Homo sapiens: one gene and its partners. The protein of the gene in region 2 interacts with the protein of the main gene of each other region in a biochemical or structural test. Each region holds a gene or a part of one and is shown on either strand. Other genes may lie near its edges.

What was found.
Region 1: the proteins of TROAP (region 2) and TRO form a complex in vitro, tested with the Homo sapiens proteins (one study listed by BioGRID).
Region 3: the proteins of TROAP (region 2) and KRT8 form a complex in vitro, tested with the Homo sapiens proteins (one study listed by BioGRID).

Annotation. Positions count from the first base shown.
Region 1 is NC_000023.11:54,913,810-54,924,113, forward strand, and holds the start of TRO (trophinin), read left to right. Parts: upstream 1-7,014; 5' UTR 7,015-7,069; exon of another isoform or gene 7,070-7,156; intron 7,157-7,178; exon of another isoform or gene 7,179-7,659; intron 7,660-8,393; 5' UTR 8,394-8,437; coding exon 8,438-8,482; intron 8,483-8,768; coding exon 8,769-9,959; intron 9,960-10,304. UniProt on the Homo sapiens protein: Could be involved with bystin and tastin in a cell adhesion molecule complex that mediates an initial attachment of the blastocyst to uterine epithelial cells at the time of the embryo implantation. Directly responsible for homophilic cell adhesion.
Region 2 is NC_000012.12:49,317,932-49,327,914, reverse strand, and holds the start of TROAP (tastin), read right to left. Parts: upstream 4,661-9,983; 5' UTR 4,566-4,660; intron 4,312-4,565; 5' UTR 4,307-4,311; coding exon 4,163-4,306; intron 4,071-4,162; coding exon 3,878-4,070; intron 3,769-3,877; exon of another isoform or gene 3,761-3,768; coding exon of another isoform or gene 3,641-3,760; exon of another isoform or gene 3,527-3,640; intron 3,424-3,526; exon of another isoform or gene 3,339-3,423; intron 2,415-3,338; coding exon 2,257-2,414; intron 2,169-2,256; coding exon 2,031-2,168; intron 1,840-2,030; coding exon 1,757-1,839; intron 1,248-1,756; coding exon 1,195-1,247; intron 707-1,194; coding exon 585-706; intron 1-584. UniProt on the Homo sapiens protein: Could be involved with bystin and trophinin in a cell adhesion molecule complex that mediates an initial attachment of the blastocyst to uterine epithelial cells at the time of the embryo implantation.
Region 3 is NC_000012.12:52,901,123-52,910,850, reverse strand, and holds the start of KRT8 (keratin, type II cytoskeletal 8), read left to right. Parts: upstream 1-5,774; 5' UTR 5,775-5,823; coding exon of another isoform or gene 5,824-5,869; coding exon 5,870-6,193; intron 6,194-8,778; coding exon 8,779-8,987; intron 8,988-9,631; coding exon 9,632-9,692; intron 9,693-9,728. UniProt on the Homo sapiens protein: Together with KRT19, helps to link the contractile apparatus to dystrophin at the costameres of striated muscle.

The DNA of each region.
Region 1 (10,304 bases), on a different chromosome or scaffold from region 2:
AATTGTCTATTCATGTCCGCTTTTTGATGGGATTGTTTTTTCTTGCTGATTGGTTTCAGTTCCTTGTAGATTCTGGATATTAGTTATTTGTTAGATATATACTAATACGTATATCAGTATATATATACGATATACTAATACGTATATCGTATATATATACTATATACTAATACGTATGTCAGTATATATATACTATATACTAATACGTATGTCAGTATATATATACTATATACTAATACGTATGTCAGTATATATATACTATATACTAATACGTATGTCAGTATATATATACTATATACTAATACGTATGTCAGTATATATATACTATATACTAATACGTATGTCAGTATATATATACTATATACTAATACGTATGTCAGTATATATATACTATATACTAATACGTATGTCAGTATATATATACTATATACTAATACTATGTCAGTATATATATACTATATACTAATACGTATGTCAGTATATATATACTATATACTAATACGTATGTCAGTATATATATACTATATACTAATACGTATGTCAGTATATATATACTATATACTAATACGTATGTCAGTATATATATACTATATACTAATACGTATGTCAGTATATATATACTATATACTAATACGTATGTCAGTATATATATACTATATACTAATACGTATGTCAGTATATATATACTATATACTAATACGTATGTCAGTATATATATACTATATACTAATACGTATGTCAGTATATATATACTATATACTAATACGTATGTCAGTATATATATACTATATACTAATACGTATGTCAGTATATATATACTATATACTAATACGTATGTCAGTATATATATACTATATACTAATACGTATGTCAGTATATATATACTATATACTAATACGTATGTCAGTATATATATACTATATACTAATACGTATGTCAGTATATATATACTATATACTAATACGTATGTCAGTATATATATACTATATACTAATACGTATGTCAGTATATATATACTATATACTATACGTATGTAGTATATATATACTATATACTATAAGTATGTCAGTATATATATACTATATACTAATACGTATGTCAGTATATATATACATATACTAATACGTATGTCAGTATATATATACATACACTAATACGTATATTAGTATATATATACATATACTAATATGTATGTGAGTATATATACTAATATACATATGTATACTATATGTATACTAATATGTATACTAATATACATATTAGCATATATACTAATATACATATTAGCATATATACTAATATACATATTAGCATATATACTAATATACATATTAGTATATATACTAATATACTTATACATATTAGTATATATACTAATACACTTATACATATTAGTATATATACTAATATACTTATACATATTAGTATATATACTAATACACTTATACATATTAGTATATATACTAATACACTTATATATATTAGTATACACACTAGTATATATATCTATATATCTGGATATAAGTTATTTGTCAGATATATAGGTATATATTATATGTTATATTATATATTATATATATAGTCAATAATAATTTAATTGTACATTTAAAAATAAGTAAAAGAGTATATATATCATGATATATTATATAATATATAATATTAAGTAATATATACTTTATATTATATATAATCACAGTTTATCTACTTGTTGATTGATGGGCATTTATATATACACACACACTCACACACACACACACACACACACACACATATATATATATATATATATATATATATATACACACCATAGAATGCTACCCAGCTGTAAAAAGGTATGAAATAATCACATTCTCAGCAACCTGGATGGAATTGGAGACCATTATTCTAAGTGAAGTTAACTCAGGAATGGAAAGCCAAACATCATCGTATGTTCTCACTTAAGTGGATGTTAAGCTGTGAGGACGCAAAGGCCTAAGAATAATACAATGGACTTTGGGGACTTGGGGGAAAGGTTGGGAGGAGTTGAGGGATAAAAGACTACACATTGGATACAGTGTACACTGCTCGGTGATGCATGCACCATAATCTCAGAAATCACCACTACGGAACTTATTCATGTAACCAAACACCACTTCTTCCCTTAAAACCTATTGAATTTAAAATTAAAAAAAGAAATACAACTGATTTTTGTATGTTGAATTTGTTTCTTAGTTATTTTTTGTGGATTCTTTATCTACATATAAAGTTATGTGGTCTGCTAACAGGGACAATTAAACTTCTTTTTTTTCCAAATTGGATTACATTTCTTTCTCTTGCTGAGGATGTCAGTACTATGTTGAATATAAGTGGTGAGAGCAGGCATACTTGCTTTATTCCTGACCTTAGAGAAAAGGCTTTCCACTTTTCACCATTGAGTAGGATGTTAGCTATAGGTTTGTTGTATATGAGCTTTATTGTATTGAGGTACGTTTCCTTTTATACCTAATTTGCTGAGCGCTTTTTCTTAAAATCAAGAATTATTGTTGAATTTTATCAACGCCTTTTCTGCATCTACTGAGATGATCATGTGGTTTCTGTCCTTTATTCTGTTAAGGTATTCTATCACATTTAGTGATTTGCATGTGTTGAACCATCCTTGCATCCTTGGGATAAATCACACTTGATCATGATGAACGATCTTTTTAATATGGTGTTGAATTTGGTTTGCTAGTATTTTGCTGAGGAGTTTGCATCTATGTTCCTCAGGGATACTGGTCTGTAATTTTCTTTTCTTCTAGTGTCTTTGTCTGGTTTTGGTGTCAGGGTAATTCTGGTTCTGTAAAATGACTTTGGAAGTGTTTCTTTCTCTTCAATGTATTGGTAGAATTTGAAAAGGATTGATATTCATTCCTCTTTAAATGTTTGGTAAAATTCAGCAGTGGATCCACCAGGTCTGGAGATTTTCTTTGATGAGAGACTTTTATCACTGATTTAGTCTCCTTTCCCATTACATATCTGTTTAGATTTTCTATTTCTTCAAGCTTAAGTCTTGGTAGGTTTTATGTGTCTAGGAATGTATCCATTTCTTCTAGGTTATCCAATTTCCTGGCATATAATTGTTCTTAGTATTCTCTTAAAATCTTTTGCTTTTCTGTGGTATTAATTGTAATGTCTCCTCTTTCATTTCTGATTTTGAGTCTTCTCTTGTTTTTTCTTAGTTGATCTAGCTAAGGGCTTGTCAATCTTATTTATCTTTTCATAAAACCAACTCTTGGTTTCACTGATTTTTTTCCTATTGTTTCTCTAATCTCTACTTCATTTACTTCTGCTCTGATCTTTATTATTTCCTTTTTTCTACTAATTTTGAGCTTATTTGTTCTTTTTTTTCCAGTTCCTTGAAGTGTGATGTTAGATTGTTTGGGATCTTTTTTCTTTTTGATGTATGTATTTATTGCTATAAACTTCGTTCTTAGAAGTGCTTTTGCTGCATTCTATAAGTTTTAGTATGTTGTATATACATTTTCGCTTGTCTCAAGATATTTTAAATTTTCCCTTTAATTTCTTCCTTGACGTATTGGTTATTCTGGAATATGTTTTTTGATTTCCATATATTTATGAATGTTCCACAATTCTTATCATTAATGATTTCTAGTTCCATACCACTGTGCATATATTACTTGATGTGATTTCAATATTCTTAAATTTGTTAAGACTTGTTTTTGTCTGTCACTTTGAAAAAATTCAACAACCTTCATGCTAAAAACTCTCAATAAATTAGGTATTGATGGGATGTATCAAAATAATAAGAGCTATCTATGACAAACCCACAGCCAATATCATACTGAATGGGCAAAAACTGGAAGCATTCCCTTTGAAAACTGGCACAAGACAGGGATGCCCTCTCTCACCACTCCTATTCAACATAGTGTTGGAAGTTCTGGCCAGGGCAATTAGGCAGGAGAAGGAAATAAAGGGTATTCAATTAGGAAAAGAGGAAGTCAAATTGTCCCTGTTTGCAGATGACATGACTGTATATCTAGAAAACCCCATTGTCTCAGCTCAAAATCTCCTTAAGCTGATAAGCAACTTCAGCAAAGTCTCAGGATACAAAATCAATGTACAAAAATCACAAGCATTCTTATACACCAATAACAGACAAACAGAGAGCCAAATCATGAGTGAACTCCTATTCACAATTGCTTCAAAGAGAATAAAATACCTAGGAATCCAACTTACAAGGGATGTGAAGGACCTCTTCAAGGAGAACTACAAACCACTGCTCAATGAAATAAAAGAGGATACAAAGAAATGGAAGAACATTCCATGCTCATGGCTAGGAAGAATCAATATCGTGAAAATGGCCATACTGCCCAAGGTAATTTATAGATTCAATGTCATCCCCATCAAGCTACCAATGACTTTCTTCACAGAATTGGAAAAACTACTTTAAAGTTCATATGGAACCAAAAAAGAGCCCGCATCACCAAGTCAATCCTAAGCCAAAAGAACAAAGCTGGGGGCATCTCGCTACCTGACTTCAAACTATACTACAAGGCTAGAGTAACCAAAACAGCATGGTACTAGTACCAAAACAGAGATACAGATCAATGGAACAGAACAGAGCCCTCAGAAATAATGCCGCATATCTACAACTATCTGATCTTTGACAAACCTGAGAAAAACAAGCAATGGGGAAAGGATTCCCTATTTAATAAACGGTGCTGGGAAAACTGGCTAGCCATATGTAGAAAGCTGAAACTGGATCCCTTCCTTACACCTTATACAAAAATTAATTCAAGATGGATGAAAGACTTAAACGTTAGACCTAAAACCATAAAAACCCTAGAAGAAAACCTAGGCATTACCATTCAGGACATAGGCATGGGCAAGGACTTCATGTCTAAAACACCAAAAGCAATGGCAACAAAAGCCAAAATTGACAAGTGGGATCTAATTTAACTCAAGAGCTTCTGCACAGCAAAAGAAACTACCATCAGAGTGAACAGGCAACTTACAGACTGGGAGAAAATTTTTGCAACCTACTCATCAGACAAAGGGCTAACATCCAGAATCTACAATGAACTCAAACAAATTGACAAGAAAAAAACAAACAACCCCATCAAAAAGTAGGTGAAGGACATGAATAGACACTTCTCAAAAGAAGACATTTATGCAGCCAAAAAACACATGAAAAAATGCTCACCATCACTGGCCGTCAGAGAAAGGCAAATCAAAACCACAATGAGATACCATCTCACACCAGTTAGAGTGGCAATCATTAAAAAGTCAGGAAACAACAGGTGCTGGAGAGGATGTGGAGAAATAGGAACACTTTTACACTGTTGGTGGGACTGGAAACTAGTTCAACCATTGTGGAAGTCAGTGTGGTGATTCCTCAGGGATCTAGAACTAGAAATACCATTTGACCCAGGCATCCTATTACTGGGTATACACCCAAAGGACTATAAATCATGCTGCTATAAAGACACACGCACACATATGTTTATTGCGGCATTATTCACAATAGCAGAGACTTGGAACCAACCCGAATGTCCAACAACGATAGACTGGATTAAGAAAATGTGGCACATATACACCATGGAATACTATGCAGCCATAAAAATGATGAGTTCATGTCCTTTGTAGGGTCATGGATGAAATTGGAAATCATCATTCTCAGTAAACTACTGCAAGGACAAAAAACCAAACACCGCATATTCTCACTCATAGGTGGGAATTGAACAATGAGAACACATGGACACAGGAAGGGGAACATCACACTCTGGGGACTGTTGTGGGGTGGGGGGAGGGGGGAGGGATAGCATTAGGAGATATACCTAATGCTAAATGACGAGTTAATGGGTGCAGCACCCCAGCATGGCACATGTATACATATGTAACTAACCTGCACATTGTGCACATGTACCCTAAAACTTAAAGTAGAATAATAATAAAATAAAATAAAAAAGACTTGTTTTTGGCCTAACTTATGATCTATCCTGGAGAATTTTCTATGTGTGCTTGAGAATATTATATATTCTATTGGATAAAATATTCCGTAGGTCCTTTTTGTCTAAAGTGTATTTCAAGTTCAATGTTTCCCTATCGATTTTCTGTCTGGATGATCTGTGAATTGTTGAAGATGGGGTCTTGAAGTCTCCTACCATTATTGTATTGCAGTCTACTTCTCCCTTCAGATCTATTAATATTTGTTTTATATATTTAGGTGCTTCTATGTTGGGTGCATATATTAAATATGTTTATAATTATTCGATATTCACGATGAATTTATCTCATTATCATTATATAATGACCTTTAAGATCTTTTATGGTTTTTGACTTTAAGTCTATTTTATTTGACATATGTGTAGTTATCCTTGCTCTCTTTTGAATGATTGATGGAATAGATAAATGTCATGAATTGTTTTCTGCATGGGGGCACAGTGCACCATGTCACAAGAGACAGTCTAAGTACAAACTGATATTGTTAAAACATCAATATAGTCATTGTGGGATCAATAAAAACTTTTCATAGATTTTTATACATTACTGTTTTTATTCTGAATTGCATAAGATGGACGGGCACCCTATCTTTTAGTGTTTAGAACCTCTAAATGTTTTAATGTGGTAACACTTGAAAAACAGAAATGAATATGACCTAGTCCCCTGCTCCAGAGCAGCTCTAGGGAAGAGAGACATAGACACAAGGTATAACAACACTATGTAAATAGTGTTGGGATAGAGGGTCTGTAGGAAGGGTTGGTGTGGGAGTTCAGAGAACTACATTCCTCCTAGGGGAAACAGGAGAATCAAATAGGAACGGAGATACAGAGTGGGGAATAGAGAAGTCAAATGGAGAATAAGAGGGAGTGATAACTGAATAGGGGTAGTAAGAAGAAAAAGGGAGCTACATTGAGGAGAATGGAAAGTTGAAAGTAGGTATGGAGGGGAGGAGACTGACAGGCAGGAACGGAGACCCCCCTCTGGAGGCGGAAAGAGGCAGGACCACTTCCGGCCAGGGAGGGGGATAGGCTCAGACACAAGGAGAGGCTTGGAGAGAGCAGACGCCTTCTGGATTCAAGAAGACGAGGTGAGCTGAGGTACCTGGCTTTAGTGAAGACCCTGTGGGGGCTTCCTGGCTGCGGCTTCGACGTGCCTGACTCCACACGCCCCTAAGGTTTGAAGAAAACCTGCTGGAGGTTTGGGACCTAACCGCATCAAAGTCGCCTTTAGCGGTGCCTGGACCCAGTTCGCACGGGAGGAAGTAGGAGGCAGAATCCCCTTTGGGCCACAGAAAGTAACGATCTGGACTCGGTTCGGGCCGTGAAAGGGAGGGATGCAGACCTAGTTGGGACCGCAGAAAGGAAGGATCGAGAAATCCTTCAGACGGTAGCAAGAGGGGAGGAGGATACACACAGTTCGGGAGGGAGATAGGAGACGGCAGGACTCCGTTTAGGCTGGAGAAAGGGGGCAGTACCCCGTTTGGGCCACAGAATGGAGGGATCGGGACCCAGAGATAAGAGTGGGCAGCATCCCTTTTGAGCAACGGAAAGGACCAGACTCAGACAGGAGAAAGGAGGGGATATGACCCGGTTGGTTCCGGTTTGAAAGGGAAGAGACAGGACCTGGTAGGGTTTGAGAACAGGAATACACAGAAGGTTCATACAGTTGGATTTGGGGGTGAGGTATTCATGTTGCAGAAAGGGCGGAGCTGCACACTTGCAGACGTGGAAAGAGGGGGGAGTGGTGTTGGTTGGGGAAGGGGTGGTGCAGAGACGTACCGCAGAGCGGAGGGAGGGGGCTTATTAAAGGAAGGGAAGATGAAGAGAAATGCTGCAGAGCGGAGGGAGGGGGGTGTATTGGGAAGGGGCGGTGCGTGGCAGTACCGCAGAGGAGAGATGGGCGGTGTTGGGGTAGGGGCGGTGCGGAGTGGTACTGCAGAGCGGAGGGAGGGGGCTAGTGTTGGGGGAAGGGTTGGATCGAGATGTGATGCAGTTAGAAAGAGTGGGTCGGGGTGGCGCCAAGATGTTCTGTTGCTCTGAGAGCAGGGGGCAGATGTGGGATTGAGCTGGTTAGAAACTGTCCGGTTTACCAAGGCGCATGCGCGCGGAGGGCATTGAAGAATGGTTCTTTTGGGATAGAGGTGGGCCTAAGATGGGGGGTGGGGGCGCCTCTAGTCGGTGCGCATGCGCACTATCGAGTTGCGGAGGGGGCGTGTAAAGGGGTGGGGTCGTAGAACTGACTCTCTCGGAGGCAAAAGGAGCTGGGCCTTGGAAACCAGATGGCCTGGGTTTTTTAGGTATGAAAACCCAGGAGTTGAAGGGATTAGGGCCCAAGGTTACATGAGACTCCCCTAAGTCAGGATAGGTGAGATGTCTGATGAATCTCCCCCTCCCTCTCATTCTCTAACTCAGGCCCATTCCCCTCAGGCTCACCTGTTACTCGGCCTCCCAGAAAGATGGATAGGAGAAATGACTACGGATATAGGGTGCCTCTATTTCAGGTGAGGCCTCTCTGCATTCTCTCTAGGCCATCTGCCCCATCCTGAGTTCACTTACTGCTCTTCAGACCCCTTCCACCGTGTAGTTTCATAATTCCCTGCCTAACTCGTCTCAGTCCTCCCTTACATGGTGAAGGAGAGGAGAGGAAAACCTGCCTGACTCTATTCCTTCCTTGCTCCCTACCCCATTTTAATTAACCACTGCTCAGAGGAAGGGAAGGCCTTTGTGGAAAGGGATGGGCTTTAGCGAGGCCAAATGGCCCAGAGGATGGTAATCCTAAGTGTGTAGGGCCCTCTGCCTCCCCCGGGGAGCCTGGGGCTTCCCTTCCCTCCAGATATACAGACTGAGACCACAGAAGAGGACAGTGTCCTGCTGATGCATACCCTGTTGGCGGCAACCAAGGACTCCCTGGCCATGGACCCACCAGTTGTCAACCGGCCTAAGAAAAGCAAGACCAAGAAGGCCCCTATAAAGACTATTACTAAGGCTGCACCTGCTGCCCCTCCAGTCCCAGCTGCCAATGAGATTGCCACCAACAAGCCCAAAATAACTTGGCAGGCTTTAAACCTGCCAGTCATTACCCAGATCAGCCAGGCTTTACCTACCACTGAGGTAACCAATACTCAGGCTTCTTCAGTCACTGCTCAGCCTAAGAAAGCCAACAAGATGAAGAGAGTTACTGCCAAGGCAGCCCAAGGCTCCCAATCCCCAACTGGCCATGAGGGTGGCACTATACAGCTGAAGTCACCCTTGCAGGTCCTAAAGCTACCAGTCATCTCACAGAATATTCACGCTCCAATTGCCAATGAGTCAGCCAGTTCCCAAGCCTTGATAACCTCTATCAAGCCTAAGAAAGCTTCCAAGGCTAAGAAGGCTGCAAATAAGGCCATAGCTAGTGCCACCGAGGTCTCGCTGGCTGCAACTGCCACCCATACAGCTACCACCCAAGGCCAAATTACCAATGAGACAGCCAGTATCCACACCACAGCAGCCTCCATCCGAACCAAGAAAGCCTCCAAAGCCAGGAAGACAATTGCTAAGGTCATAAATACTGACACTGAGCATATAGAGGCTCTAAATGTCACTGACGCAGCTACCAGGCAGATTGAGGCCTCAGTAGTGGCTATCAGGCCCAAAAAATCCAAGGGCAAGAAGGCTGCCAGCAGGGGCCCAAATTCTGTCTCTGAGATCTCTGAGGCCCCACTTGCCACTCAGATAGTCACAAACCAAGCCCTGGCAGCCACCCTGCGGGTCAAGAGAGGGTCTAGGGCTCGGAAGGCTGCCACTAAGGCTCGGGCAACTGAAAGCCAGACTCCAAATGCTGACCAAGGGGCCCAGGCCAAGATAGCCTCTGCTCAGACCAACGTAAGTGCCCTTGAGACTCAGGTTGCTGCTGCTGTCCAGGCCCTGGCAGATGACTATCTGGCTCAGTTGAGCCTGGAGCCCACAACCAGGACCCGGGGCAAAAGAAACCGAAAGGTGAGATCTCTGACATTGCCATCCTTAACTTTGTGCTTCTTTTCCATTTCTACCCTTCTAGTTTGTTCATTTCTTCTATAAAAGTTTTACTTTGAGCTAGTCCCTGTGTTCAGATAGGCTGTGGAAGATGCTGAGAAGAAGGTGATATAGTTTCTGCTCCCTAGCAGTTCACAGATTGGTGAGGAAATAAGACATCCATACACTCAGCTACAACCTGTATGTAATACTACTTGTATTTAAATAGTAGTTACCACGTGCCAGGCTTTGTGTTGGGTACAGTTACACAGGGTATGTCTGAATGTCTTGAAAGTAACTCTTACCAACAAGGGATCATAGGTCCCAGTT
Region 2 (9,983 bases):
CCCCTGGTCTTCACTTAAACATCATCTTCTCAGTAAGAGTTCCCTGACAAATCTATTTTAAATTGCAATACCAACTCCCCTGCTCCCAATTCTCCTTTAGTGCCTTATTATTATTATTATTATTATTTTAGAGAGAACTTACCATCATCTGAGACACTATTTATTTTATACCTGTGTTTATTTCTTGTCTCCCCCTTCTAGAATATGAACTTGTTTACTGCTATATGTCCAGAGCCTAGAACAGAGCCTGGCACTCAGTAGGCTGGTGCTACTCAGTAAATATTTGTGGAGCCAAGGGATGAATGCTTTTGGCTGACAAGTGTCAGATCTGTCTCACCCTTAGCACTGATCTGATGGTGATACAAATATGACCTCTCACCCTAGGCCCCAGACATCTGATAAAGAGAGGTCAGTCTCACATTGGAGAGGGACTGGGTGCATCTGGGGTAAACCTACCCAGTAACATCCTGAGGCCCAGGACTTCCTGGCTCTACCTACAATTCTCAGTGTTGGCTGCTGCAGCAAAATTCTTCCAAGCAACTCCTGCACCTCCCACCCACCATCCCAGGAGAGTCGCATCTCACCCTGGTATGTGACATTTCTCGGTTTTCTCTTAATGGTACTCGCTGGGCCAGACCAAGAGAGGCCACACCTCCTTCATCTGAGTGAGTGACAACCTCGCGTTCTCCTTTAGGAAGAGAGAAAGCTAGGAAGAAACAGGACATTTGTTGTAGACTCTAGAACACCCACCAAAGTTTGGCACAGTGTTCTGCAACTTCTGAAGAGGGTATATTAGTTTAATAGGCCCCATTGCACTATTAGGGACAGGAACCCATCCAGCAGCCCCTCAACACCCAACACTATCTCAGTAAACACTTATTAATCTGAACGTCTGAGTAGGCTGGGGATGTGGTGATGGCACTTAGGGGCTGGGGATAAACAGTGAGTGGAAGATAAATCTTGCAGGAAGTGGCAGAGAGAGGGCCGAAATGGAGACCATCTCCTTAGACAAAAGTGCAACTGTGCCAATCGCTGGCCTATCTAGAAGGTCTCTTCTCCTTCTCCTTCTGACCTAGCCTCCCGGCCTCCCACTTCCTCATGCTCCCTCCCAGCCTGCTGAGTTTTCTCTGGTCTTGTTCCCTGCTTCAGGCAGCCCAACTGCCCCTGTTCTCTCCCCACGCCAGAAACACTTACCAGGCTGGACTGGGGTCTCCAGGAGCAATCCTGAGGCCTGGCTCACTGAAGTCCTGATGACAATAAGGACATTAGCCAGCAGTCACTGAATACCAAGTATGAGCTGGACATGTGCTAAGTGCTTTACAAACATCATCTCATTTCATTCTCATGACAACTAATGATGGTACAAATGTTATTCTCACTTGACAAAGAAACCAAAGCTCAGAGAGGTGAAGGCAAGCTTGCACAAATAGTAAGTGTTAAGAGTTAGGATATAAACCCAAATCCCACTTATTGCCACAGTCTATACTCTAGCCACTAAACAAAAGAGATAGCACATTTCTGTCCTCCCTGTCCCCCCATGACTTGAGTAAACTGATGTCACACTGAGGCCTGGCTGTGAAAGCCTGAACCCTATCCCAAGGGCTCATCCCGGGTAATCACAGGTTTCTTGCTTCCCCTCCTGAGTTGGTGGGGAGTCCTAAAGCTCCTGGAAGGCCCCAACTCTGGGGGACTCCTGTATCAGACACTGGTTCATTCTTTTCCAGATGACCTTCTCCCACACCCTCTCCTTTCTCACCGGCTGCTGCCAGCTGTCTCCCTTCTTAGCTCCTGGAAACTGGGGCGAGTGGAAGGGTGAAAGGAAGGTCCTGAAGGTGAAATCTGATCCACAGGAGCAAGAGATGAAAACGGAATCAGAGGTGGACCCCAAACCCTCAGGCCTCACCACCAACCCCATCTCCCCCAGTAGGATCCCTTGCCTCATCATGAGGTACCTCTTCTCCCAGAGCCCAGCTTTGTCCCTGGAAGGAGCTCCCAGAAGCACCGACTATCAGCCCCTCAAGGGCACTCACCAGAGCCTGTAGCCTCTGGGGGCACAATGTCCGGCCTCGAGGTCCTGGTCCCTCCAGCCTAGAGAAGCAGGAAGCCCTGGCAGGGTCCAGTCGGTGGGTGGGGGTTCTGGGGGCCAAATATGCAGAGGCCCGAACACCCTGGGACACCAACAGAGGCTGTCAGCACTGCTCAGGATGCCCCCCTCAGTGCCCCCTAGCCTGGTCTCCTCACATCCTGTTTCATTACCTGGACCCTCTGGGTGGTGCCTCCCTGACTTCCTCGAACCAGTACTCTTTTAGCCAGACTAGGCTGGCGCCCCAGGTGACAGCTCTTCACACCCTCACCTGACAGGATGGTGGCCAGGGCTGCAGGGTCAGCCACAAACTCTATGGTCCCTGGAGCCTCTGCAAGGAAAGAGGAGAAGGAAAAGGAAGGGGGAAGGCTGAGGGGGATAGGGCCCCTAGCATAGGAACTTTGAGGTACAAGGTGAGCAAGAGACTCATTCAATTGAATTTGGCTTATTTTTTTTTTTTTTTTTAAGAAATAGATGGCTGGGTGCAGTGGCTCATGCCTGTAATCCCAGCACTTTGGGAGGCCGAGGCGGGTGGATCACCTGTGGTCAGGAGTTTGAGACCAACCCGGCCAACATAGCAAAACCCTGTCTCCACTAAAAAAATACAAAAATTGGCTGGGTGCGGTAGCTCACTCCTGTAATCCCAGCACTTTGGGAGGCTGAGGCAGGTGGATCACCTGAGGTCAGGAGTTTGAGACCAGCCTGGCCAACATGGTAAAACCCCATCTCTACAAAAAACAAAAACAAAAAAAAATTAGCTGGACCTGGTGGCGCGCGCCTGTAGTACCAGCTACTCAGGAGGCTGAGGCTGGAGAATCACTTGAACCTGGGAGGTGGAGGTTGCAATGAGCCAAGATCGTGCCACTGCACTCCAGCTTAGTGACAGAGTGAGACTCTGTCTCAAAAAAAAAAAAAAAAAAAAGAAAGAAAACAAAAATTAGCTGGGTGTGGTGGCAGGTGCTGGTAATCCCAGGTACTCGGGGTGAGGCATGAGAATCGCTTGAACCTGGGAGGTGGATGTTGCAGTGAGCCGAGATCATGCCACTGTACTCTAGCCTGAGGGATAGAGTAAGACTCTGTCTCCACAAAAAAAAAAGAAAAGAAAAAAAAAAAGAGAAAAAGAGATGGGGTCTCACTATGTTGCCTAGGCTGGTCTCAAACTCCTGAGCTCAAATGATCCTCCTGCCTCGGAGGAGTGTTGGAATTACAGGCGTGAGCCACCACACCTGGTCACCAAATGTTCATAGAATGTTACATAAGACACTATTCTAAGCACTGGGGTCCCATAAGAATAAGACAAAGCCCCTATCCTCAAGAGGCTATCATCAAACTATAGACAGGTAACAGACTCAAGCCAAGGTATATACATGTTATAAAAGAAGTGCTGCAAAGTATTAGGAGAACACAGAGCAACTGATTGTGACATGGGGAACTGGAAAAGGCTTCAGAAGAAGTGATATTTATTATTTATTTATTTATTTATTTTTTAAAGAGATGGGATCTCCCTCTGTCATCCAGGCTGGTCTCCAACTCCTGGCCTCCAGTGATCCTCCTGCTTCAGCCTCCTGAGTAGCTGTGATTACAGGTACAAGCCATGGCACCTGGCGAGATGACATTTTGCTGGAGGAAAGGGAGATCTTCTAAGAGCAAAGAGCTTTCCAGGAGCTGGGACCAGGACTATCACAGTAAGTAGGAGACAGCAGGAGTGAGTGCAAAACCCCAAAACCCCACTTTTACCCTTCCTAGTCCCCTACTCAGCCATGGAGGCCGTGTTACCATGGCTCCAACAGGTACCTGTCTGGGCAGGGGGCCCAGGCCCCACATTTTGACCCCTAGGGCTAGGCCTGAGCTCTTCCAAGGGGTTCCGAGGCTGACTGATCCCCACCAATCTTTGTGATGTCTCTGCCTGGTGCCTGGCTTTCGGCCTGGGGCCTGCTGAATCAACGAGGGGGCGTTGAATATTGAGCGGTGGTTTCTGCACCCATCTCTAGGGGAGGGAGCGGGGACAAAAAGGTGAGGTTTAGTGTTGGGGTGCATTACTGGTGTGACTACTGTCTTCCCCCATTAGGCCCCTCTTACCCTTGGATCTTGGTTCTCCTGGTCCACGGCGCACGATGTAACAGTGGGGAAAGGCGTGCGTTTCTGAGAGCGTACCGGAATCTTGCTAGGGGTAGGAGATACACCCCGGAGGAGGGGATCCTTCGTGGCTTGCCGGGTGGTCATGATGGCTACAATTGAGACGGGGAAGAAGGCAGGCAGAATCTAAGATCAAAGATCAACCAGTTCTCGGGGCACCTGTCCTGCCATCCCTGATACCTCCGCCCTAATCCACGCGCCCACAAGCCCCCGGCGCCTGCAAGACCGCTCTTATGGGTGCTATCTCCAGACACCCCGAGCCTACTCTTTCGCCCTCGGGCCCCAAACTGCCCTCCTCCCTATGAACCCAGCAGCCTTCGTTCCCTTCAAGACCCCCGTGCCTTACCTTACCGAGGCCCCTCAGGGCCTACCCAGCTTCCTCCGCTTTTCTCCTGACCCTCTCGGGTGCTGCTGGAGCTACTTTCTCAGTTTGTAAAATACGCCAAGCTCTTGATTGGCCCGGTCGCGCTCCCGCGGAGGCCCGCGTAGCCAGACTCAGCCGTCCAATCCGCGGGCATCGCAGGAGGGGCCAAAAGAAGGACCAATTGTCGAACCGCTTTCTGGCGAGGAAAAAAACTGACTCGGATCAATCAGCCAATCCGAGAGTGGAGCGCCGCTGGGAGGCGGGGAAAGAGGAAGGATGGGGCCGTTCCGAGGCCGGGGAAGGCGTAGCCACGGGAGCTCTCGCGAGGCCTCAGGACCGGCTAGGGGCCGGCCATTGGCAGGACCGGGCGAGGTCGCGGTACTGAGGGTACAGTTGATCGTTCCGATTGCTGCCAACGGTGTTGAAGGCTGGCCCGAGCCCCCGACCCGGCTTGACCATAGCACGGCGCCAAGCTTTGGGGACGCCATTCCAGATGCCCATAGAAAATATCTGCGTCCGGGCGCGGTGGCAGGCGCCTGTAATCCCAACACTTTGGGACGCCGAGGCGGGAGGATCTCTTGAGCTGAGTTTGAGACCAGCCTGGGCAACATAGCGAGACCACTCCCACCCGTTTCTCTACAAAATAATAAAATAATAATAATAATCCCTGTGCAGTGGTGCGCGCTTGTAGTCCCAGCCGCTCTGGAGGCTGAGGCAGGAGGATCGTGTTGAGCCCAGGAGGTTGAGGCTGTAGTGAGCTGTGGTCGCGCCACTGCACTCCAGCCTGGGCAACAGAGACCCTGTCTTAAAAAAAATAAAGAGGGAAAGAGAGAACATCTGTACGTTGTCTCCGGGATAAGGAACTGCCTTCAAACGGGCGGAGAGGGCTGGAGGGAATCGAACTGAGCCTAACAATATGTGTGCTCCTTGGAGCCTCACAATCCAGTGAGGTGTCTGATGAGGTGTCTTTCATTTTACGGGTAGGTAACAAGACTCATTGTTTTTGAACTCAGTTACCACAGCACCAGAATTGAATGGCTACTCACAGCTGGGGATTTCCTTGCCTCCAGGTTGCCTTTTGCAGATCTAGAGGTCTGGGGAGAGGGGGCTCACCTGCTGGTTATTGGTGGGCAAGGCTGTGAGACTGAGAGATCCTAGAATATCCTGCTTAAGATGGAAGGGGTAACCCCTAACGGGGGACAGGAAATGAACAACACTTAACAGAACTCTGGTGGATTTTCCCCACCAATCACAGAAGTTATTCTTACACAAGCCAGAAACCGAGGAGTTACTCCTTAACTCCTCCCACTCCCTTTACATATCCCATCTCTCATTCACTCTCACTAGTTTTACTATTTATGCATTTTTGGGACAGGGTCTCACTCTGTCGCCCAGGCTGGAGTGCAGTGGTGCGATCTCAGCTCACCGCAGCCTCGGCCTCCTGAGGTGGGAACCTCAGCCTCTCAAGTAGCTGGGACTACAGGTGCCTGCCACCAGCTAATTTTTGTGTTTTTTTGTAGAGACAAGATCTGGCTACGTTGTCTAGCCTGGGGTTACAGGCGTCTTTCCCAGCACTTTGGATGGCCCAGGTGGATCGCTTGAGGCCAGGAGTTCCAGACCAGCCTAGACAGTGTAGCAAGATCCTGTTTCTATAAAAAAAAATTTAAAGATACGTAAGGTATCTTTACTAATTGTATGCATCTTTAAAATTCATCTACTTTCAGGCTGTGCGCGGTGGCTCACGCCTGTAATCCCAGCACTCTGGGAGGCCAAGGCAGGGGGATCACCTGAGGTTGGGAGTTCAAGACCAGGCTGACCAACATGGAGAAAACCGTCTCTACTAAAAACACAAAAATTAGCCGGACTTGGTGGCTCATGCCTGTAATCCCAGCTACTCAGGAGGCTGAGGCAGGAGAATCGCTTGAACCCAGGAGGCGGAGGTTGAGGTGAGCCGAGATCGCACCACTGCAACTCCAACCTGGGCAACAAGAGCGAAACTCCGTCTCAAAAAAAAACCAAACAAACAACAACAAAAAGATCATCTACTTTCGGCTGGGTTTATGACTGTAATCCCAGCACTTTGGGAGGCCGAGGTGGGCGGATCACCTGAGGTCAAGAGTTTGAGACCATCCTGACCAACATTGTGAAACCCCGTCTCTACTGAAAATACAAAAATTAGCTGGGCATGGTGGCTGATGCCTGTAATCCCAGCTACTTGGGAGGTTGAGGCAGGAAAATCACTTGAACCCAGGAGGCAGAGGCTGCAGTGAGCCAAGATTGTGCCACTGCATTCTCCAGCCTGGGTGACAAGAGTGAAACTCTGTCTCAAAAAAGAAAAAAAATTTCTTACTTTCTCTTTCTTTCTTTTTTCTTTTTCTTTCTTTCTTTCTTTTTTCTTTCTCTCTTTTTCTTTCTTTCTCTTTTTTTTTCTCTCTCTCTTTCTCTCTCTCTCTCTCACTCTCTCTTTTTCTTTCTTTCTTTTTTTTTGAGACAGAGTCTTGCTCTATCCCCCAGGCTGGAGTGCAGTGGCCTGATCTCAGCTCACTGCAGCCTCCACCTCCCGGGTTCAAGCGATTCTCCTGCCTCAGCCTCCTTAGTAGCTGGGATTACAGGCACCAGCCACCATGCCCAGCTAATTTTTGTATTTTAGTAGAGACGGGGTTTCACAATGCTGGTCAGGATGGTCTCGAACTCCTGACCTCAAGTGATCCACTTGCCTCGGCCTCCGAAAGTGTTGGGATTACAGGCGTGAGCCACCGCACCCGGCCCATCTACTTTCTTGTTCTTTGTTAGCACCACCCTAATCCACCTCAGTCTCACCTAGGCAATTGCAAGAGTGTCTTAGTTGGTCTCCCATCCCCTATTCTCTCTTTCTCTTCACACTCTTCCATTCTCCATATAGCAGCTAGAGTAATCTTTCCAAAATGCACATCAAGTCAGGCTACCACTATCCCTTGACCTCTCCCCACTGAAACCCTCCATCTTCTACCACTCTTCCCCTTCTATTAATATCTCCAACTTCATGGCTTCTTTCAATTCCTCAAGTTTGTCCTGATTGCTCTATATGGTCCCTGTTTCTGGAATGTCCTTTTCACTTCCACTTGGCCTATTTATGCCTCCAAATTGATTCCCATTGTTATTTCCTCAGGCCTTCCTTGCACCCCTCTACCTACCACCCACCCCAATCTAGTAAAGACCTCTTGGCTATGTGCTCGCAAAAAGTAATGTTTGTTTCCTCAGAGCATGTATGTTAGTTGGTAATTATATATTAATCAGTGTGAACATAATATGTTTACTAAACCCAGTTTCCTCCAATAGACCTCCAAGGAGATGATGAAGGTGACCCTCTATTTTTGGCCTACCATCATATCTTTAGTACCTTGCATTATCCTTCGTAAAAGTGCTCAATCCTTGTTGAATGAGTCAATAGATAGATGAATATATGATTGAATGCATCAACAAGGAAGACCTCCAAGAAGAAATAATGTTTGAACTTCCTCTTTAAAAAAATTTTTAAGGTCAGGCGTGGTGGCTCATGCCTGTAATCCCAGCACTTTGGGACACCAAGGCAGGCGGATCACTTGAGGTCAGGAGTCTAAGACCAGCCTGGCCAATATGGCAAAACCCGGTCTCTACTAAAAATATAATTAGCTGGGCGTGGTGATGCATGCCTGTAATCCCAGCTACTCAGGAGCCTGAGGCACGAGAATCACTTGAACCCAGAAGGGAGGGTTGCAGTGAGCAGAGATCATGCCACTGCACTCTAGGCTGGGAGAAAGAGTGAGTGAGACTTTGTCTCAAAAAAATATATATTTTTAATATACACTTTTTTGTATAGAGATGGGGTCTTGCTATGTTGCCTAGGCTGGTCTCAAACTCCTGGGCTCAAGCCATCCTCCTGCCTCAGCTTCCCACAGTGCTGAGATTACAGATGTCAGCCACTGTGCCAGCCTGCTTTTACTTTTTTTGATTAACTCTGTTTTCAGGATTCATCCTTATTACTACATATAATCTAATTCATTGCTTATACCTGCTACATAGGATTCCATGGTAGGCATCCATTATACTTTACTTACCCATTCCTGACTTCTACACACAATGCCAGACAGTTATCTCTTTCATAGTCCCCTGTGAACCAGTTCAAGAATTTCTCTGGAACATATTCCTCGGAGTGGAATTTCTGTGGTAAGGTATATGCATGCTCAATTTTACTAAGTAGCACCAGATTATTTTTCAGAAAATCTGTAGCTGTAAACCGGGCATGGCACACACTTGTAGTCCCAGCTTCTTAGAAGGCTGAGGTAGGAGGATTGCCTGAGCTCAGGAGTTTGAAGCCAGCTTTGATAACAGTGAGACACTCTAAAAAAAACCCTGAAAAACAAAACCAAGCAAGAAAACCCAGGTCTGTAGCTGTTTACAGTCTCAACATCATTACTGAAAGTTCTTATTACCTCATACCCTTTCCAACACGTAATATTATACAACTCTCTAATATTTGCAATTCTAATAGGTATATTAAGTGTACTCTCAGTTATTTAAAATTACATTTCTCTGATTACTAGTGAGTTTGAGTGTTACTTCATATTCTTTTTTTTTTTTCTTGAGATGGAGTCTCACTCTGTTACCAAGGCTGGAGTGCAGTGGCACGATCTTGGCTCACTGCAACGTCAGCCTCCCAAGTTCAAGCGATCCTCCTGCCTCAGCCCCCCTAGTAGCTGGGATTACAGGCACCCACAACCATCCCTGGCTAATTTTTGTATTTTTCATAGAGACAGGGTTTCGCCATGTTGGCCAGGCTGGTTTCCAACTCCTGACCTCAGGTGATCCACCCACCTTGGCCTCCCAAAGTGCTGGGATTACAGGTGTGAGCCACTGCGCCTGGCTATTTCATATTCTTGTTAGCCAATAAAGCTTCCTTCTCTCTGAAATGCCTATTCATATCCTTTGTGCTTTTTTTATTTTGGATTCCTGTCTTTACTTTTGTTCCTTCATAAGATTACACTATATTATGAATATTAATCCCACATTCACTTTTTTAAAAATTATTTTATTTTATTTTATTTATTATTACTTTTTGAGATGGAGTCTTGCTCTGTCACCCATACTGGAGTACAGGGGCCTGATGTCGGCTCACTGAAACCTCTACCTCCTGGGTTCAAGTGATTCTCCTGCATCAGCCTCCCAAGTAGCTGGGATTACAGACACGCACCACCACGCCTGGCTAATTTTCTTTTCTTCTTCTTCTTTTTTTTTTTTTGAGACTGAGTCTTGCTCTGTCACCAGGCTGGAGTGCAGTGGCGCAATCTCGGCTCACTGCAACCCCTGCCTCCTGGGTTCAAGGGATTCTCCTGCCTCAGCCTCCCGAGTAGCCGGGATTACACGTGCCTGCCACCATGCCCA
Region 3 (9,728 bases), 3.6 Mb from region 2:
CCCAGCAGGAAAATCAAAACAGTGGGCCTCTGGATATCAGCTCCAGTGCTAAGCAGCTCAGGCCAGGGGAATCCTCAGGGCTGGGGTGGGGGTGGGCAGGATGCCTATAGCGGAGCCCCAGGTCCTTCCTGTTTGTTCTTTTCCTGCACTCCTGTCCGGTTGCCTGAACACCATGAGGGCTTCCCCTATCGCAATGTCAGCTTCTGAAGTTTCCTTGAAATCCTCTCAATAACTTCCACTTCCTGTCACTCAAGTCCCCAGTACCGCTGTCTTCACTGTCAGGAGTGGGACCCATTTGTGTCTGTCCTCTCGCAGTCTCTGTCTCTGTCTCTGTGGCCCTGGCCAACGGTGGTGGAGTTTCAGGTTCTGGGGACTGAACCACTCTGTTTTCCTTCCTGAGGGACAGAGTATATCACCCTTTCTAAGCAGGAACCTGCAGTGCTGTGGATTTGAGCTCTGGCCTATTTCCTCTGGGAAGAGGAAGAAAGTGTGTTCCTAAAGGTCTTGGTGTTGGGACCAGAGCTAAAGCCTGGTGCCTGACTCTGGCTGTACCGAGGAAGCTTTGAAAATGCAGACGGGGTGCGACCTGAGCACGTATACTGTTATAATCTCCCACGGGCGATCTTGATGTGATGGAGAACCAGAGTTAAGGGGAAGGACTCTGTGGACTGAGCCATAGCTGGGACCTTCCGCCTAGGCTTCATGCTCACCCAGTGGGATGACCTTCTTGGTTTGGCATCAGTGGAGAGGAGGGTGAGAGAATGTTGAAAATGTGAGAAAGGCTGTGTGCAGTGGCTCACGCTGTAACCCTAGTACTTTGGGAGGCTGAGGCAGAAGGATTGCTTGCATCCAGGAGTTCGAGTCAGGCTGGGCAACATAGTGAGATCCTGTCTCTAAAAAAAAGAAAAAAAAGTGTGGGAGACCTCAACATCTTCAGGCTGCTGGGCTTGTGTCTCCTTCCTCCACAACAAGGCTGTGCTGTCCTCCCTCACTCTTGTTCTAATAATTTCTAATCATATCTCTTATCACAAGCAAAATTTCAAACCAGAGAACATTCACAGATTTTCATCTTCAGTGCGTAAAGCTCTATGGTGGTGGATGTGGATCAAAAGCTTTCAGAGTTGGCGGGACTTGGACATTCTAATTCAAACCCTAGCAGATGTGAGAACCCCCTCCCACTGAGCCAGTGGACAGCTGGTGAGCAAGGTCCCTCTCCATGTCTCCAGGTACAGGAGGTTGCTCCCTCTCTAGGCAGTCCATTTCCATCCTGGCTGGCTTTAATCATCAGATCCATCACTGATCAAGAGCAAAAAAGTCAGCATTTGCTAAGCTTTGACAATGAAAAATTTTAGCCTTGAGGCACATAACACAAAATTAGCAATCGAATTGACTCTATTATTCATGATGCTGCTTCCTGAGGGGTGTACCCACCACCTGTGGCTTCCTATTTAAACAAATTGTTCTGCTGTCTCTATGCTAAATGCAGCTATTTCTATACCAATAATAACATTTCAAAATGCTCCATCATTTAAAGGGATTTCGGGTGCTTTTCGGGCATTGCCTTAACCCAGAGGCAGGAAGCCTCTTTACCTGGGGCATCTAAACAAACTCTTTGCTTCTTTCCCCTGACCCCTTATGCTGGGCACAAAGCCCCTGCTTTTTATATGTAGCTCATTTATGCTTTTGTGGTTATCTTTTTGTTACAACTTTGTTGAGCTGTAATTCACATACAATATAATTCAACAATCTGAAGCTTGCAGTTCAGTGATTTTTAGTATGTTCACAGACTTGTGCAGCTTCACCATCATCAAATTTGTTTATTTATTTATTTATTTTTGAGACAGAGTTTCACTCTGTCTCCCACGCAGGCTAGAGTGCAGTGGCACAGTCTTGGCTCAATGCATGCGGCCTCAACTTTCGGGGCTCAGGTGATCCTCACAACTCAGCCTCCAGGGCAGCTGGGACTACAGGCGTGTGCCGCCATACCTGGCTAATTTTTGTATTTTTTGTAGAGACGGGGGTCTCATTATGTTGCTCAGCTGGTCTCAAACTCCTGGGCTAAAGTAATCCTCCTGCCTCGACCTCCCAAAGTGCTGGGATTATAGGTAGAGCCATTGTGCCTGCCCACCACCATCAAATTTAGAACATTCTCATCACCCCAGAAAGAAACCCTGTGCTCTTTAGCATTCATCTCCATTCCTCCCCTCCCTAGGCAACCACTAATCTACTTCCTGTCTCTATGCTTTGCCTGTTGTGCACATGTCATATAAATGGAATCATAGGGTACCTGATCTTCTATGACTGTCTCCTTTCACTGAGCATACGGGTTTCAAGGCTCATCTGCATCCAACATGCATCAGTAGTTCATTCCTTTTAATTGTAACATTAGATCGTATGGATATGCCACATTAAAGAAATCCATTCGTCATTTGGTGGACATTTGTTTTGTTCCCACTCTTTGGCTATTATGAACAAGGTTGCAGCGAATGAGATCATCAGTCCTGATCTCTAAGCAAAACTTGTTCAGATCCCGGGAGGCGGAGCTTGCAGTGAGCCGAGATTGCGCCACTGCACTCCAGTCTGGGTGACAGAGCGAGACTCCGTCTCAAAAAAGAAAAAAAAAAACTTGTTCAGACCATCTCTTCCCATGATCATGAGTGATGATAACAGCTACCTCCCCACCCCACTGGCCCCAAGACTTAATGCCACTGCTCAGGGTCTCAGGGCCTTCTCTGAATTATCCTGCACCATCAGAAGTAGGGGGCCTGGCCCTCACTCTTGGCCCACAGGGAGTGAGTGTCTCCTCCTTCCCTGGTTCACTCTCCAGGAAAGGCGGTTTGAGGCAGAGTTGTCTGGGTAGGGCAGGCACCGCAAACACGTTGTTCCCTTTTGTCCGGCAGGCAGCTGTGTGTAGACCACAATGCCTTACAAGGAGTTGTACCTGTGGGCCTGCTCCAGTCTGGTTCTCTCTTCCCTCACCACTTGGCCCTAGTCCCAGGGGCCTTCTCCTTCTGCCTTTAACCCTGAAGTCCCAGGCAGGGGCCATCAGAGAGGCCAACTCTGGCCTCTTCTCCTGCACCGAGGCTGTGCTTGGGGCATCTGGGGGAAGGTTTGGCTGGGGTCTCTGGGCAATAGAGAGATGACAAATGAGACACAAACACTTCTGGCCCTAGACGGTTCTGGGCTGCCCCAGAAAAAAAGGGCTTCCCCTGGCTGGGTAAGGTCTGGGTCAGCCCTCCAGCCTGCATACTGCAGGGTCCCTGGCAACCCCCTCTGTCCTCACCTTAAACAAGGGACACTCCTAGAACCAGGGAACCAGAAAGGTGGGGTGGAGGGGACTGGAATTTCAGGAAAGGCTTTGGGGTGCTGTTTTTTTGCTCCTTGTGCTGCCTAGATCAGGACCTGAGTGCCCCCTGCTCCCTCTAACAGCAGCGTGGGGGAGGGAAGATAGGGAGAGCGCCTGTCCTCCCTTTCCAGGGCTGCCATACCCGTCTGACCAGCCCCTCCCTCCCTCCTTCCGCCTTCCCTGTCCCAGGTTTGGCACTGGGCCCAGTCCTTCTCCCTTTGGTCTTCTGTTAAAAGCTTCTCAGCCCTGGTGGGTGCGGGTGTTTGTTGGGGAGGGGGTAGCATGCCTTCCAATCACTCTTGGGAAAATTAGGCATTGTTTAAAGGAGCTGGGAGAAGGCCTGGTGTAAATAGGTGCTAACTGAATTTCCCTTGCTCCATTCAGCATAGCAGGAGGCAGGGCCTGGGGAGGGGAGGGGAGGTGAAGGAGCCACTCACTGTGCCCGCTCTTGGGATCTATGCATTTTTCTGGAAGGGACTTCAATGTGTGGGGTGTGTGTGTGTGTGTGTGTGTATGCACGCGTGCATTGTGAAGAGAGCTTGTCTGTGTGTCTGTCTTTTTAAGTTTGTCTGTCCTCCAAGGAGGGGGCTTCTGGGTCTCTCTGTCCTTCTGGGTAGGGGTCCTATGTGCCTGTCTTTCTGTGAGCCTGGGTGTCTCTCCTAGAGAAGGATGGGGAAGAAACTGTACATCTGTCCTCCCAGTAGGTGGTCACCCCCTTCCCTGGGTCAGGGCTATGTCACCTGTCCCTCTCCTCAAGGGGATCTGGCTGTCATCTGTTGGTCCTCTGAGTTCAGTTTCATCCAGTCCCCACATCACACCCTGCAGTATCTTCCAGAGAACCCAGCCCCAGCCATCAGGTAATTGCAGGTGGAATCTCTGCCTTGGGGACCTAAACCTCCTGCCTTCCACCCACAGCATGCCCTGCCTGGCCCCACCCAGGCCTGGGGTGCCTTGCTCAGCTCCCCAATCTCCAACCTCCCACAGGTGCGTGCTACGTCCCAACCTGCCCTCCTGACTCACTTTGATAATGGGAGACAGGTGCAGGGACTCTTCCTCTATTTCCTCTGGCCCGTTGGGAGCCTGGGTAAAGCAGGAGGGTCCAGGTAGCACCACGAGTGCCACACCACTCCACTGTACCCCCTGCCGTCCTGTCTCACTTCCCATGATTCACTCACTGGGAGCAATGGGAGTGACTCCCGCAAAGAGCAAGAACTATGAAGTCCCTGACATAGCTCCCATCTCCTCTTGCCCCCCCCAACCCCTGCGTTCTCTGCCTTCTAGCCCTGTTCATCATTCTCTAGGCCCTTCAGTGAGGCCTACAGTGTTCACCTGGCCCAGGGGATCCTAGGATCTTGGAAGGAGAGGAAGCCCCTGGGTTATGTTCAGGAAAAGTGCTGTGTTGGATCTCGCTCTTTTTTTTCTTTGAGATGGAATCTCGCTCTGTCGCCCAGGCTGGAGTGCAGTGGCACGATCTCAGCTCACTGCAACCTCTGCCTCCCGGGTTCAAGTGATTCTCCTGCCTCAGCCTCCTGAGTAGCTGGGATTACACCATGGCCAGCTAATTTTTGTATTTTTAGTAGAGATGGGGTTTCACCATGTTGGTCAGGCTTGTCTTGAACTCCTGACCTCGTGATCCGCCTACCTCAGCCTCCCAAAGTGCTGGGATTACAGGCGTGAGCCACCGTGCCTGGCCTTGGATCTCTTTTTATCTTGCACCTTCAGATGTAGAGGGACGACAGCCACTGTGTGTGTATGTGTATGTGTGTGTGTGTGTGTGTGTGTGCGCGTGTGATGTTTATTCACTCATTTATTTATTCATTCATTCATTCCACAAATATCTACCCAGACCCTCTTGGCACTGCACCAGGTGCTAGGGGTAGAACAGTAACCTGGAAAGATGAGGCAAATGGTTGATTTCAGATTCAAGGCTTTGGACTCCAGCTGTTCTGTCATCCAGCTCAGGCAGGCCCTCATAATCGCTTCAATCAGGGAGAACACAGGAGAGTTTCTCTGGGGTGTCGGCAGCTCAGAGGAGACCCAAATACTAGGAGACCCCTTTTTCCCATGCTTCCCAGTCCTCCAGTTTATTTCCCCCAGGAGGGAGGGAGACAAGACCCAGGAGTCAGGGTTGTAGTGGCTGGGCGGCCCAGGCAAGTCTGCTTGTTACAGGCACTTGTGCCAGGACAGGATTTCTTCCAGTTTCATATTCACTGAACTGCCTTTTCCTGGGTTTCTGGGGGTGGTGCTGGAGTGGGCTCCAGGGTTGGAACGGGCCCTTGGGTGGCGGCAGCTCTCTGCTGCCCCCACCTGAGTCCTGCCCGGAGGTGGCAGGTGACGGGTTAGGCCCAGCCCCCTCTGGGCCTAGCCACTCAGGTACGAGGCCTTTCCCCCCCATCCCCCGGGGCTGGGATCTCTTTTATAAAAGGCCATTCCTGAGAGCTCTCCTCACCAAGAAGCAGCTTCTCCGCTCCTTCTAGGATCTCCGCCTGGTTCGGCCCGCCTGCCTCCACTCCTGCCTCTACCATGTCCATCAGGGTGACCCAGAAGTCCTACAAGGTGTCCACCTCTGGCCCCCGGGCCTTCAGCAGCCGCTCCTACACGAGTGGGCCCGGTTCCCGCATCAGCTCCTCGAGCTTCTCCCGAGTGGGCAGCAGCAACTTTCGCGGTGGCCTGGGCGGCGGCTATGGTGGGGCCAGCGGCATGGGAGGCATCACCGCAGTTACGGTCAACCAGAGCCTGCTGAGCCCCCTTGTCCTGGAGGTGGACCCCAACATCCAGGCCGTGCGCACCCAGGAGAAGGAGCAGATCAAGACCCTCAACAACAAGTTTGCCTCCTTCATAGACAAGGTGAGGGTCCCCCCTGCGTGGCTGACTGTGCCCGCAGCCCCTTTCTCCTGGTAGTCCCGGTCCCTATGCACATCTCCAGCCCCCAGCTGGCGTCCTGCTGGGCCTCACCCGCCCTGGCGACACTCTCCCTTCCATCCTCCGACTCACCCCTCCCGTGCACCTTGGTTTGGGCTGGGTGAGGGTGGGGAGAGGGTCTGGACAGCCGGGATGAATCCTGGGGCTTCCTTCTTCCCTTTTAAACTGGAGGGTCTTGGAAGAGAGAGACAACTTAAGGGTACAGCCTAGTTCCCACCACCCCTCTCTACAAATCCCGTTCTTCCTCAGGTCATTCTGTCCCCAAATTATAAAAAATAATAGCGGTTATTGTTCTCACCCCAACCCGAGTTCTGACCGTCTTTTAAGCTATCGCCCTGCGGCAGTCCCAGCTGTTCGGGGACTACCCTCCTCCAGGTTCGCCTCTTCGCCAGCACTACCCCAAGGGCTCCCCAGTGGTGCCTTTGTGATTTTTTTTCTTTCTTTTCTTTTTTTTACATAGGGGTTTGGTGTGATTCTAGCATTCTAGGAGAAGGAAGTGGGTGTCTCGGTTCAAACGGGCAAATATTGATTGAGGCCTTTGGCGCCCGGAGGCCTGAGTGCGGGGGTCACAGAATGAGTCATACCCCGGCCCCTGCGCCGGCAGCGTGGGCGGGGCCGAGGGCGGGGTGAGGGGCTGCGGGCAGCAGTCTCGGGACGCTCTCCTCCACCTGGCGGAGCTCGGCGTCGGGGGCGGTGTGGGTGGGGTGGGGTGGGGTGGGGTGGGCTGGGGTGGGGTGGAGGAGGCGCCAGGGCCTGGCCTCGGAAAGCCCATGCAGGATTCAAAGTCTGCGGGCGTGGGACGCCCCGCCCGGGGTTTACGTCCTGTTAAGTTTATGGCTTCAGATAACGCGGTCGCCCACCAACGCCCCTCGCCCATTCAGCCCGTGTCCCTTTCTCGCGTCCTGTCCCTGCTCCGCCCCAGCGGCCTGGCTCCACTTTCACACAGCAGGAGCCAGGCCGGGTTTTGCAGCCCTGGGACTCCGCTGCCTGAGGGGCCCCGGGCCCCCGGCGGCCCCGAGGATTGGGCCCTTCACGCTGACTGGCTCCTGGGAGGCATTGTGGGAACGGGAGGAGGGAAATCCTGGGGCAGAGTAAGCCGGGAGGAACCGGAGCCCCAGGAACCCAGTGGTCGGGGGCCCTTGGCGCTCCAAGCGCCTGGACTTGACTTGTTGACTGCGTTTTGCTAGCCCTGGGGTCCTTATAGAGAGCAGCTAAGCATAGGCTTTGGAATCTGAATTCTTGGTTCGCACTGCTCTGCCGGTTCCTGGTTATGGACTCCCTTGCCAAGTCTTATTTCCTCATCTATAAAATGAATATGAGAGCCCCTAAATCCATATAGGCAAAAGTTTTTGCCTATTCAAACTTACATATGTAAAGAGTTCAGCAGTGCTTGGCCCACATTCCATTAGGATAAGATGTTATAATCACTTTTTTTTAAAAAATAATTTTGGGGCAGAATGACCTGGGGAAGAAAGCGATTTGCAGAGAGTGGTGGAGGGAACTAGGCTGTACCCTTAAAAGATTTCTGTCCCCTCCAGTTTAGAAGGAGTTACAAGTTTTTTTGTTTGTTTGAGACAGAGTCTCACTCTGTCGCCCAGGCTGGAGTGCAGTGGTGTGATCTCAGCTCACTGCAACCTCCGCTTCCTGGGTTCAAGCGATTCTCCTGCCTCAGCCTCCCGAGTAGCTGGGACTACAAGTGCGTGCCACCATGCCCGGTTAATTTTTGTATTATTTGTAGGGACAGGGTTTCAATATGTTGGCCAGGCTGGTCTCGAACTCCTGACTTCAAGAAATCCGCCTGCCTTGGCCACCCAAAGTGCTGGGATTACAAGCGTGAGCCTCCACGCCCGGCCTCTTTTTCAATCTTAACATCTTTAGAAAGGTTGGCTATTTTTGGCCGGGCGCGGTGGCTTACGCCTATAATCCCAGCACTTTGGGAGGCCAAGGCGGGCCAATCACAAGGTCAGGAGTTCGAGACCATCCTGCCTAAGACGGTGAAACCCTGTCTCTACTAAAAATACAAAAAAATTAGTGGGGCGTGGTGGCAGGCAGGTGCCTGTAGCCCCAGCTACTCGGGAGGCTGAGGCAGGGGCAGGAGAATGGCATGAACTTGGGAGGCGGAGCTTGCAGTGAGCTGAGATCTTGCCACTGCACTCCAGCCTGGGCGCCGGAGACTCCCAAAGAAAGCTTGGCTATTTTTATTGATGTGTAATATACAACCTATGTAAATGAAGTTAGGCCTATTGGTTTGCAAATGCAGCTTTAACATAATTACCTTACCTGTCTCCTTCCCCTACCCAATGCTGAGGGACATTGCTCCCCACCTCACCATCATGCCATGCTTTCTCCCCCTGGTCATAGGTGATCTTTCCAGAACAGCTAACCAGGTGCCTGGGGTCTGGAGACCTTACTGCTTGAGGAGTGAATTAAGAGAAAAGACTGCTTGCTTTCCTCCAGACTTTGAGCCCTGGCCTGATGTAGACCTTTTTGCTCTCTCCTCCTTCGTATAGGTACGGTTCCTGGAGCAGCAGAACAAGATGCTGGAGACCAAGTGGAGCCTCCTGCAGCAGCAGAAGACGGCTCGAAGCAACATGGACAACATGTTCGAGAGCTACATCAACAACCTTAGGCGGCAGCTGGAGACTCTGGGCCAGGAGAAGCTGAAGCTGGAGGCGGAGCTTGGCAACATGCAGGGGCTGGTGGAGGACTTCAAGAACAAGTGAGCAACTCCCACCCTCCACCCAACTGAAGTCACCGTGCTCTCCTCCACCCCTTGGGACCTTGGGACTAAGTCCCCATGGCCCTCTGTTGTGGGAAGTGCAGTCCTATCTAATTAGGGTGACCACCTGATGAGGTTTGCTCGGAACAGTCTGTGTTTATGCCCAGGTTCCTAGCACAATTGTTGATAGTACCCACCCCCTTTCAATCTCAACTGTCTGGATTTGAAGAACAAATTATGTGTCAATGTTGACATGGTAAACCTGAGACGGGAGAGATAGGCAGCCTGTGGGCCTCACTTTTGTACTTAACATTCTGGCCCCTCTTTAGTCTTGACCCTTGACCTCTAGCAAACTCTAGAAAGTTCTGTCTGAGGTCTCATGTCAGGCCCTGCTGTTAACACTCTCAAGGTGTCCAATCCGATGTGTATTCATGGATTTGGAGAGAGATTTCCTGCTTCCCACGGGCTAAGGGAGGGGTGAGGGTGGAGAGGGCAGCTGGGGAAGGCAGAAGGACCAGCCTTCTCATATCCTGCATCTCTGTGAACTGAATTTTCCTGATTTTCACAACGCCCCTGTCTCCCAAAAGACCAAGGGCAACCTCCCTTTTGCCTTCATCCTCTAATTGTAAGTCTTTTCCTCACAGGTATGAGGATGAGATCAATAAGCGTACAGAGATGGAGAACGAATTTGTCCTCATCAAGAAGGTGAGGGAGTCTCCCTTCTCCTATCTGGACACTGGA